Regions from separate parts of the Homo sapiens genome. Here regions 1 and 2 are each linked to region 3. The links come from fine-mapping of genetic effects on gene expression. A gene starts in region 3. Each other region holds a variant in brackets. All regions are shown on one strand. Distances are from middle to middle. Region 1 has its middle 35 kb from the start of NSFL1C. Region 2 holds the start of NSFL1C (NSFL1 cofactor). Region 3 holds the start of SIRPB2 (signal regulatory protein beta 2).

The links.
Region 1: its variant is fine-mapped to the expression of SIRPB2 in whole blood (INTERVAL, PIP above 0.99).
Region 2: its variant is fine-mapped to the expression of SIRPB2 in whole blood (INTERVAL, PIP above 0.99).

The regions. Positions count from the first base shown.
Region 1 is chr20:1,430,896-1,433,655 of GRCh38, reverse strand. No RefSeq gene overlaps it. Among named protein-coding and RNA genes, the nearest start is that of NSFL1C, 35 kb to the left of the region's middle. The variant C/G (reference allele first, on the strand shown) is at 1,463.
Region 2 is chr20:1,465,623-1,468,382 of GRCh38, reverse strand. NSFL1C (NSFL1 cofactor) reads left to right here and starts at 1,534. Exons shown (of 9, transcript NM_016143.5): 1 at 1,534-1,663. The coding sequence starts at 1,559. RefSeq lists a silencer at 1,240-1,509 and an enhancer at 1,804-2,305. The variant G/A (reference allele first, on the strand shown) is at 1,358.
Region 3 is chr20:1,490,002-1,492,761 of GRCh38, reverse strand. SIRPB2 (signal regulatory protein beta 2) reads left to right here and starts at 1,342. Exons shown (of 5, transcript NM_001122962.2): 1 at 1,342-1,487. The coding sequence starts at 1,403.

The DNA.
Region 1 (2,760 bases), 59 kb after region 3:
GTTATCTCTTGTCATGGTTTTGACATTAGCATGTCTTGTGATGCTAATGATGCTGAACATCTTTTCATATGCCATTTGCCACCCATAAATCCTTTTTGATAAAGCATTTTTAAGAGTCCTTGCCGGCCAGGCATGGTGGCTCATGCCTGTAATCCCAGCACTTTGGGAAGCTGAGGTGGGCAGATCACAAGGTCAGGAGATCGAGACCATCCTGGCTAACATGGTGAAAACCCGTCTCTACTAAAAATACAAAAAATTAGCCGGGCGTGGTGGCGGGTGCCTGTAGTCCCAGCTACTTGGAGGGCTGAGGCAGGAGAATGGCGTGAACCCAGGAGGCGGAGCTTGCAGTGAGGCGAGATGGTGCCACTGCACTCCAGCCTAGGTGAGAGTGCAAGACTCCGTCTCCAAAAAAAAAAAAAAAAAGAGTCCTTGCCTTTTTGTTTATTGGATTATTTGTTTTCTTACTGTTGGATTTTGAGAATTCTTTACAAATTGTGATTACAAAAATATAAATGCAGAATATCTATGAGTCCACCGTTACCTTGATATCAAAGGTATGATTCTATGAGTCCACCGTTACCTTGATATCAAAGGCAGACAAAACGACTGTCCGGTATATCTTATGAATATAGACTCAAAAAATCCTCAACAAAATAGCAAACCAAATCCAGTAGCACATTCAAAGGATTATAGATCATGACCAAGTGGGATTTCTCCCAGAAATGCAAGGGTGGCTCAACATAAGAAAAAAAAAAATCCATCAATGTAACACAACTCTGTAAAGAGGGAAATGATATCACAATAGATACATTAAATGCATGCAACAAAATTCAACACTTCAAACACTTTCAGGATACAAACACTCACCAACAAATCAGAATACAGAGAACTTCCTTAACATGATAAAGGTCACTTACACAAAACCCACAACTCACATTATACTCAATGGTAAAAGAGCAGAAGCTTCCCCACTGAGCAGGAACAAGACAAGAATGCCCATTTTTACCACTACTATTAAATATTGTACTGGAAGTCCTAGCCAGAGCAGTTAGGCAAGAAAAAGCAATAAACAGCCTCCAAACTGGAAAGGAAGCAGTAAAGTTATCTCTATTTGAAGATGAAATAATTCTATGTATAGAAAATATAACAATACCAAAATGCACACAACTACTAGAGCCAATAAACAAATTCAACATAGTTGCAGATTGCAAGATCAGTGCACGAAAGTCCATTTTCTATGCATCAGCAATGAACAGTCTGAAAATGAAATTAAGTAACAATTCCATTTATAACAGCATCCAAAAGAGTAAAATACTTAAACCAAGGAGAAAGACTTCTATGCTGAAAACTACAAAACATTGCTGAAAGAAATTAAAGAAGACCTAAATAAATGGAAGACAACACATGTTGATGTATTGGAATATTAATTGCAAATGATCCACAGATTCAATGCAACCCCTAT[C/G]AAAATTCCAATGGCATTTCCTAAGGAAATAGAAAAACTAATCCTCAAATTTATGTGGAACTGGAATGAACCCCAAGTAGTCAAAATACTATTGAAAAAGAAACACACCAAAAAAGAAAGAAAAAGAAACACAAAGTTTCAGGGCTCATGCTTCCAGATTTCCAAACATGCTCCAAACTTCTATAATCAAACCAGTGTGGTACTGACATAAGGACAGACATATACACCAGTGGAATATAATTGACAGCCTAGAAATAAATATCTATGGCTAATTGATTTTCAATAAGTGTTCAGCACAACTCAATGGGGAAAGAATAGTCTCTTCAACAAACAGTGCCGGGGCAACTGCATAATCACAGGCAAAAGAATGAAGCTGGACCCGTACCTCACTCCATACACAAAAATTAACTCAAAATGGATCAATGACCCAAATACAAGAGGAAAACATAGGGGTAAACTATTTAGAGAAAAACATAGGAGTAAATATTTATAACCTCAGACTTGGCAATGGATTCTTAGATTTGACACCAAAAGCATGAGCAACAAAAGGAAGAAATGGATAAATTAGACTTCATAAAAAGTAAAACCATTTGCACAATAAAATATATTATCTAGAAAGTAGAAACACAGCCCACAAAATGAGAGAAAGTATTTGCAAATAATGGACTTGTATCCAGAATATATAAAGAACACTTAAAACTCAACCACAAAAAAAAAAAAAAAAATTAAGAAATAGGCAAAGAACCTGAATAGACATATCTCCAGAGAAGACATACAAATGGCCAATAAGCACATGAAAGCATGTTCAGCATCATTTGTTACTAAAGAAATGCAAATGAAAACCACAGTGGGATACCACTTAACACCTGCAAGAGATAAACCACTTCACACCCGCTAGGATAACTATAATCAAAAACATGGAAAATAGCAAATGTTGATAAGGATATGGAGAAATAGAAACTTGTACACTGGGATCACACAATAGAGAACACTGTAGTAACATTTTGGTCTGCTCACAAGACCCAGAACATTTACCAGTTTTTGTTGTTGGTTTATTATTTTTCTGTTAAAAAAAATTGTGAAAAGTTTGTTTTAGCTGGATGATATTTTAATAGTTGCCAGTGCTTTGGAACTATGTAGATGTCACTACTTAACACATATACCTTATGTTTTGTTTTATTTTGTTTTACACTCAGTATAAATCAGGAACATTTAGCCAACCACCTAGCATTTAGAATCCTCTTTTTTATTGGCTTCTAAGGATATGGATGTTCCCATAACAGCAACAAAAACATTTT
Region 2 (2,760 bases), 24 kb after region 3:
TCTTGCACAGTGTTAATAAGACACCGAATTTTCCAGGAAAGCAACTATTGTGTCAATTGAGGGAAGACTGGACTTTGTGCTGTTCATAACCTGATTAAGAGGGGTTTTGACTAAGCCTGGGCACCTTCTCAAGGTCTCCTTGAGAAAGGGACACCTGAACTGAGAGCTGAAGAATGAGCAGGGGCCGACAGAGGAAGAGGAAGGGAAGAGTGTCCCACGGTGGTGTTGGAAATTAAAGCTCGAAGTCTCAAGGAAAACCAGCACTGAAATAAAAGATTTTTCAGCAAAGCCAATTTACTTCTGCAGAAGGGTGCCACTCACACATCTGGTCTTCAGGAAAGCACACCGAACAAAAGAGAGAAGGGGTTTTTATCCCTAATGCGGTTAGTCGCTGCTTCTGTGTCCTGTTCCCATTGGCTGGGGCTGGACTGCGCAATCTAAGCTAATCCCGATTGGCTAGTTCAAATGGAGCAGAAATGTGGGCTACAGTGGTAGGGCAAGCGGTTTCGGCAGGAAGAAGAGTTTCCGCGGGAATGGCAATTGTAGCGAGGGTATCCAAGGGAACAGATGTGAGTTATAGATTAGGACCCGCGGGAAGGTTGTTTACCGTAACTAGGGGTAAGGAGGTACAAAGAACAAGGAAGTTAGGCTTTGAAAATAGAGAACAAAGAACAAGTAAGCTGAACAAGTAAGTTCCTCTTTGGAGAGGCAAGAGGGCAAAGAAGCTGAGGACCCAGAAGACAGGATTGTGCCTAAGAAAGTGGCCTTGGAGCAGAGGCCCAAAGAAAGCGGGGAGAGCGCCTTGCCCATCGGTAAGGGAAAGGTGCTCCAGGCACAGAAGCAGCTAATGCAACGGCCCTGAGGCAAATGCAAGATAACTGGCAAGTTCCAGGAACAGCAAGGAGGGCAAGGCGCCTGGAGCAGAGGAAGCTAGCGGATCCCTTGATGAGAGGGAGGAACTGGCCCATCTCTCATGGGTCCTGCAGGCAGGCCATGAGACTGTCTTTTATGCGGGGCGAGATAACGAGGCATGGACGTGTTGTGAGCGGAGGCCTAGCCTGTTCAAGGTCTGAATTTTTACCCCTAGAATGTAAGAAGCATGGGAGCAGGGACTTTGTTTTGCTCCCTGCCATATCCACAGCCCTAGAAAAACGTCGGGCCATTGATAGCTCTCAGTAAATGCTTGACAAGTAAGTGAATGAACGAATGCACAATTAATGAAATGAGGGCTGCGTCAATGAATAACTGGGAATCTGACTCCTGCAGGGAGCCTTCAGCCCACAGGTGTATGTAAGACCCGCCCCGCCTCTCATCCTTCGGGCTCCCACCCCCGCCGTTAGGCTGCGGTTCGCGCCGC[G/A]GTCGCCAGAGGGCGCGGAGCGGCGGGGCTTCCCGCACGGAGGGCTTTGCGTGAGGCACCGCGTGGGGCGGGGCTGCGGGCGGGCTCCCAGCTGCTGGGCCCTCATCGGCTGGGCCTCGTCGACCGGCAAGCGGAACGCGGCAGCGGGGCTGGGCCTGTGCGGCGGCCGCCGGAGCGCTTTGGAAGGCGCACGGGGCGAAGATGGCGGCGGAGCGACAGGAGGCGCTGAGGGAGTTCGTGGCGGTGACGGGCGCCGAGGAGGACCGGGCCCGCTTCTTTCTCGAGTCGGCCGGCTGGGACTTGCAGGTAGCGCCGCGCGGCGGGCTGTGTCGGGTGGGCCGGGGACTGCTGGGAGCGGGCGCCTGGTGCCTTAAGCCCGCGGCGGCCGAAGCGCACAGTCATCCCCGCTCTACCGCGGCCCGACCCAGGCCTCATGGTCCCGGGACCGCTTGTCACGCGTCGCCTGCTCGGCTTGGGAGTGGGGGAACGCGGGCCAGCCCCAGCCAGTTCTGCCGTGCCAGTTTCACCCTGCCTCGCCCGCTTGCGGCGTCAGCGAGACTTCGGGCGCTGCGGCAGCCGGCGAGGAGAGGGAGCGCCTGGGGGCGTGGCTGCCGCGCCGAGTATCTGCTGGAGGCCGGGCTGGTCCGAGTGAGCAGCTCTTGGGTGAAGCCCCACTCGGGACTAGGTGGCCGCTCATTTCCACTTCCGAAGTCCAGCCCGGGAGTTGACCGCCGCCCAGCCTTCCTAATTGCTGGGAGAATACCTCTGGGGTGGTGGCGCAAGGTTGGAGCTTCTTCACCTTGCGTAGTTAACTTATCTGTAAAATGGGAGTCTCGTGGAAATTGCTGTGTAGTTCATTGGCACGTACTGAGTATTCACTAAATACTTGCTAAGAAGACTTAAGCTTCACGAGGCAGGGATTTTTGTACACTGATGAATTCCCAGTGCCTGGAACAATGCCTGGCACATAATAAGCATTCGGTAATTAACTGTAGAAAGAATTGCATAAATATTCTTGGCCAGCTTCGTCTTAGGTAGATGATGACGGTGATGACTAATATTTATTGAGTACCTACCATGAGCCAAGCGCTGTTCTGACTGCTTTACATGTCTTTTGTCATTTAACCTTCGCATTTTGCAGCTGAGATTAAAGAGGTTAAGTAACTTGCTCAAGGCCTCACTAGCTACCAGGCAGAAGAGGTAGAAGTGGAACCCAGTTCTGTCTGATTGCAAGCAGACAGAGCCCAAGCTTTAAACCACCATGTGCCAAGCACTTTACATAATATGATTCGTTGGATCCTAGCAACACTATGAGGTAAAGACTAGACCCATTTTATGGATGAGGAATTGGAAGCACAGAGGGCAAAGAATTTGCTCAGGGTCACATAGCCAGTAAGTAGCGG
Region 3 (2,760 bases):
AAGAATGACATGGAAAGTACTGAGGGTCTGGTGGAATCATCTAGGCTTGTGGCCCTTTCAAAGAAGTTTCACTATATAGATCTCATTGACAGGAGAACAAGTAGAGGGAGTAATGGAATTGAGCAGGGGTATCAATGCAAGGCCTCAAAAGTCTAGAAAAGACCAGTCACAGACCCAGTGCAAAGTCCTTGGGGACCAGGCCAGACTAACCTCCTCATAGTAGACACCAGACCTCTGGGACCCAGGGGACATACTCAGATCCAAGGCCTGCCACCCTGTTGCTGGAGAATCTTCAGCTTCCTCTGCACCCAGAACCTTCTGAAGCATGAGGGAGGAAGTGAAATAATGAAAGGCTGAGTTGTTCTTGTACTTTTCCCTGAGTTAATTAAAAGACTGAGTTAACCTAAAAGACAATGGTGAAAGCCTATAGAGTGCTTACTCCACCCCACACATGCTACCACATTTTTATTCCTGTTTTACAGATGAGGAAACCGAGGCATAAAGTGGTCAAATGATTGTCCTAAGGTCACACAGCCAGACTGAGTAAAGCCAAGATTTGAACCCAGACAGTGTGGCTAAAGAGATTGCCTGGATTGCATGAATTGGCAAGATTAAGCTTTTCCTTCTTGATAGCCAGCACCAGGAGGCTCCTGAGGAAGTTCAGATCACTTACAGGAAACAAAGATGCCACAAACGCAAATGTTTGCACAATCTGAGTATGTTTCACTTGGACCCCAGGAAACAGAGGCTGAGAGAGTTACACATGATTATACTTTTAGGAATTAGGCCTGTACCCTCCCTGCAGTGCTAAAAGGAGGCCCCCATGGGGCTTGCTTTATAATAAATCCTTCTTCTTAAGCAATGTCACCTCCTCTACTTTCTGCACATCATGAATAATAATGGTTAATATGTTTAGCATTTACATTGTTCTGTGCCCTCACATTATTTCTCATAATCTTACCAAAACTGTTCTGAGGAGGGAACTGCCGTTGTTCCTACGCTGCAGATGAAGAAACAAAAGGCTCAGAAATGGGAAGTGACTTTGAAATCTTGCACAGCCAAGAAGAGGAAGATCCAATGTTTGCTCCAAATTCCACCCGATTCTGGAGTGCGTCCTATGACCTCAGTGCCCACCTCCCTCCCGGGCACCTAGGATGGAGCCTATGGCAAGGTTTTAGCACAGTGACTACAGGAATCACAGCCCAGACACAAAAGCAGGAAACCCTTTGACCGGGCTCCTTCCTATTGCACCAACAGCCTTGTGTTGCTGCAATGAAAACACTTCCCCAAGCAGCTGTGGCCAAGAGACGCAGAAACTGCCTTGTCCACGGGCCCCGCCTCAGACTCCAACACTCACAAGAGAGCAGAGGAGCCCCAAGTCTTGGGGACCACAGAAGATGCCATGTGCTCCACGATGTCGGCCCCCACCTGCCTGGCCCACTTGCCTCCCTGCTTCCTGCTGCTGGCACTGGTCCTTGTCCCCTCAGGTAAGTGGGGTCTAGGATAGAACAGGGTCCACCCCCGGCTGGTCAGTCCCTAGAGGGGCACTAAGTGCTCTGCCATGCCTGAAGAAGCTTGACCCCATGAAGATAGAGTAAAGAGGGGTCCACTGAAAATTTGCCTGACTCCGGCAGAGGGCACCCCCAGTGTCCCAAGAAGCAGCGTAGTGAAGTGATAAGCTCCCAGGCTCTGCGCTCACACCCACTGGCTTCCAGCTTGATTGCTCCTATGCCCACGTCAGATGCTGCAGCTCTTTTAGCCCCAGGAGCCTCTTCTACAAAACAGGGACGCTCATGGGACCTTTCTCTAGGGCTACTGTGAGTATTAAATAGAAAAGTGGTGAGGCTCAGCCCTGGGCCGGCTGCATAGTTTATGAGACCCACTGCAAAATGAAAACTGCGGTCTTTTGTTCAAAAAGTATTGAGCAACACAGCAGAGCAGTAAACCAAGCATGGGCTCCTTCTAAGCACAGGGCCCTGTGCGACTACATAGATGGCACAGCCATGAACCAGCCCTGGCTCAGCTTAAGACGCAGTAGGCTCAAACCTCACCACTAACCAGTTTAAGTAATTTCTTTCTGAGCCTCAGTTTTTCCAACTGTAAAATGGAGCTAAAAATAGGACCCACCTTGGGACTTTCTTAGGAGAATTTAACAAGATAATACCCATAAGTGCCTGGCATAACAAAGATTTGATAACTCTTGGCGATTATTATTATCATTCCCATGTTTCCTCTAACTCAGGGGCAGGCCAGGTTAGCTCCAGAGTCTTGAGACCCCTGAATATATAGCTCAGCCTCTGAGTCCAGAACTCTCTGATCTACCAGGCAGGGATACTTGGCTCTCAGTGGGCTCATTCCATCTCCTGCCCATCTGGGCCTCTGCTCCAGGCTCTACTGAGATCTAGATTCTGTCCATGACATCTTTGGTCCTCCGGGGTGGCCATCCCCAGGAGAGATCCTGGCAGAACCCAGGTGTGGGGTCGGACCTAGGTGCTCCCTTACTCATTGGCCGTATGACTCAAGACACCACTTCAATTCTCTAAGCTGATTTCCTCAATTCTAAGATGTGAATCATAATTGCTAGGTCTCATTCCACAGGTACTTTTGAGTGTCTGCTATGTTTTAGGCACTAGACTAGGAAATCAGAAATCTAAACTACTCAGAATAAAAAATATTCCCAATGATTGTTGCAATAGAATAGATGGAAAATAAGAGAAGTTGCTTAAACCAGTCAGTTGGAATGTTTGAGTCCAGCTGCAT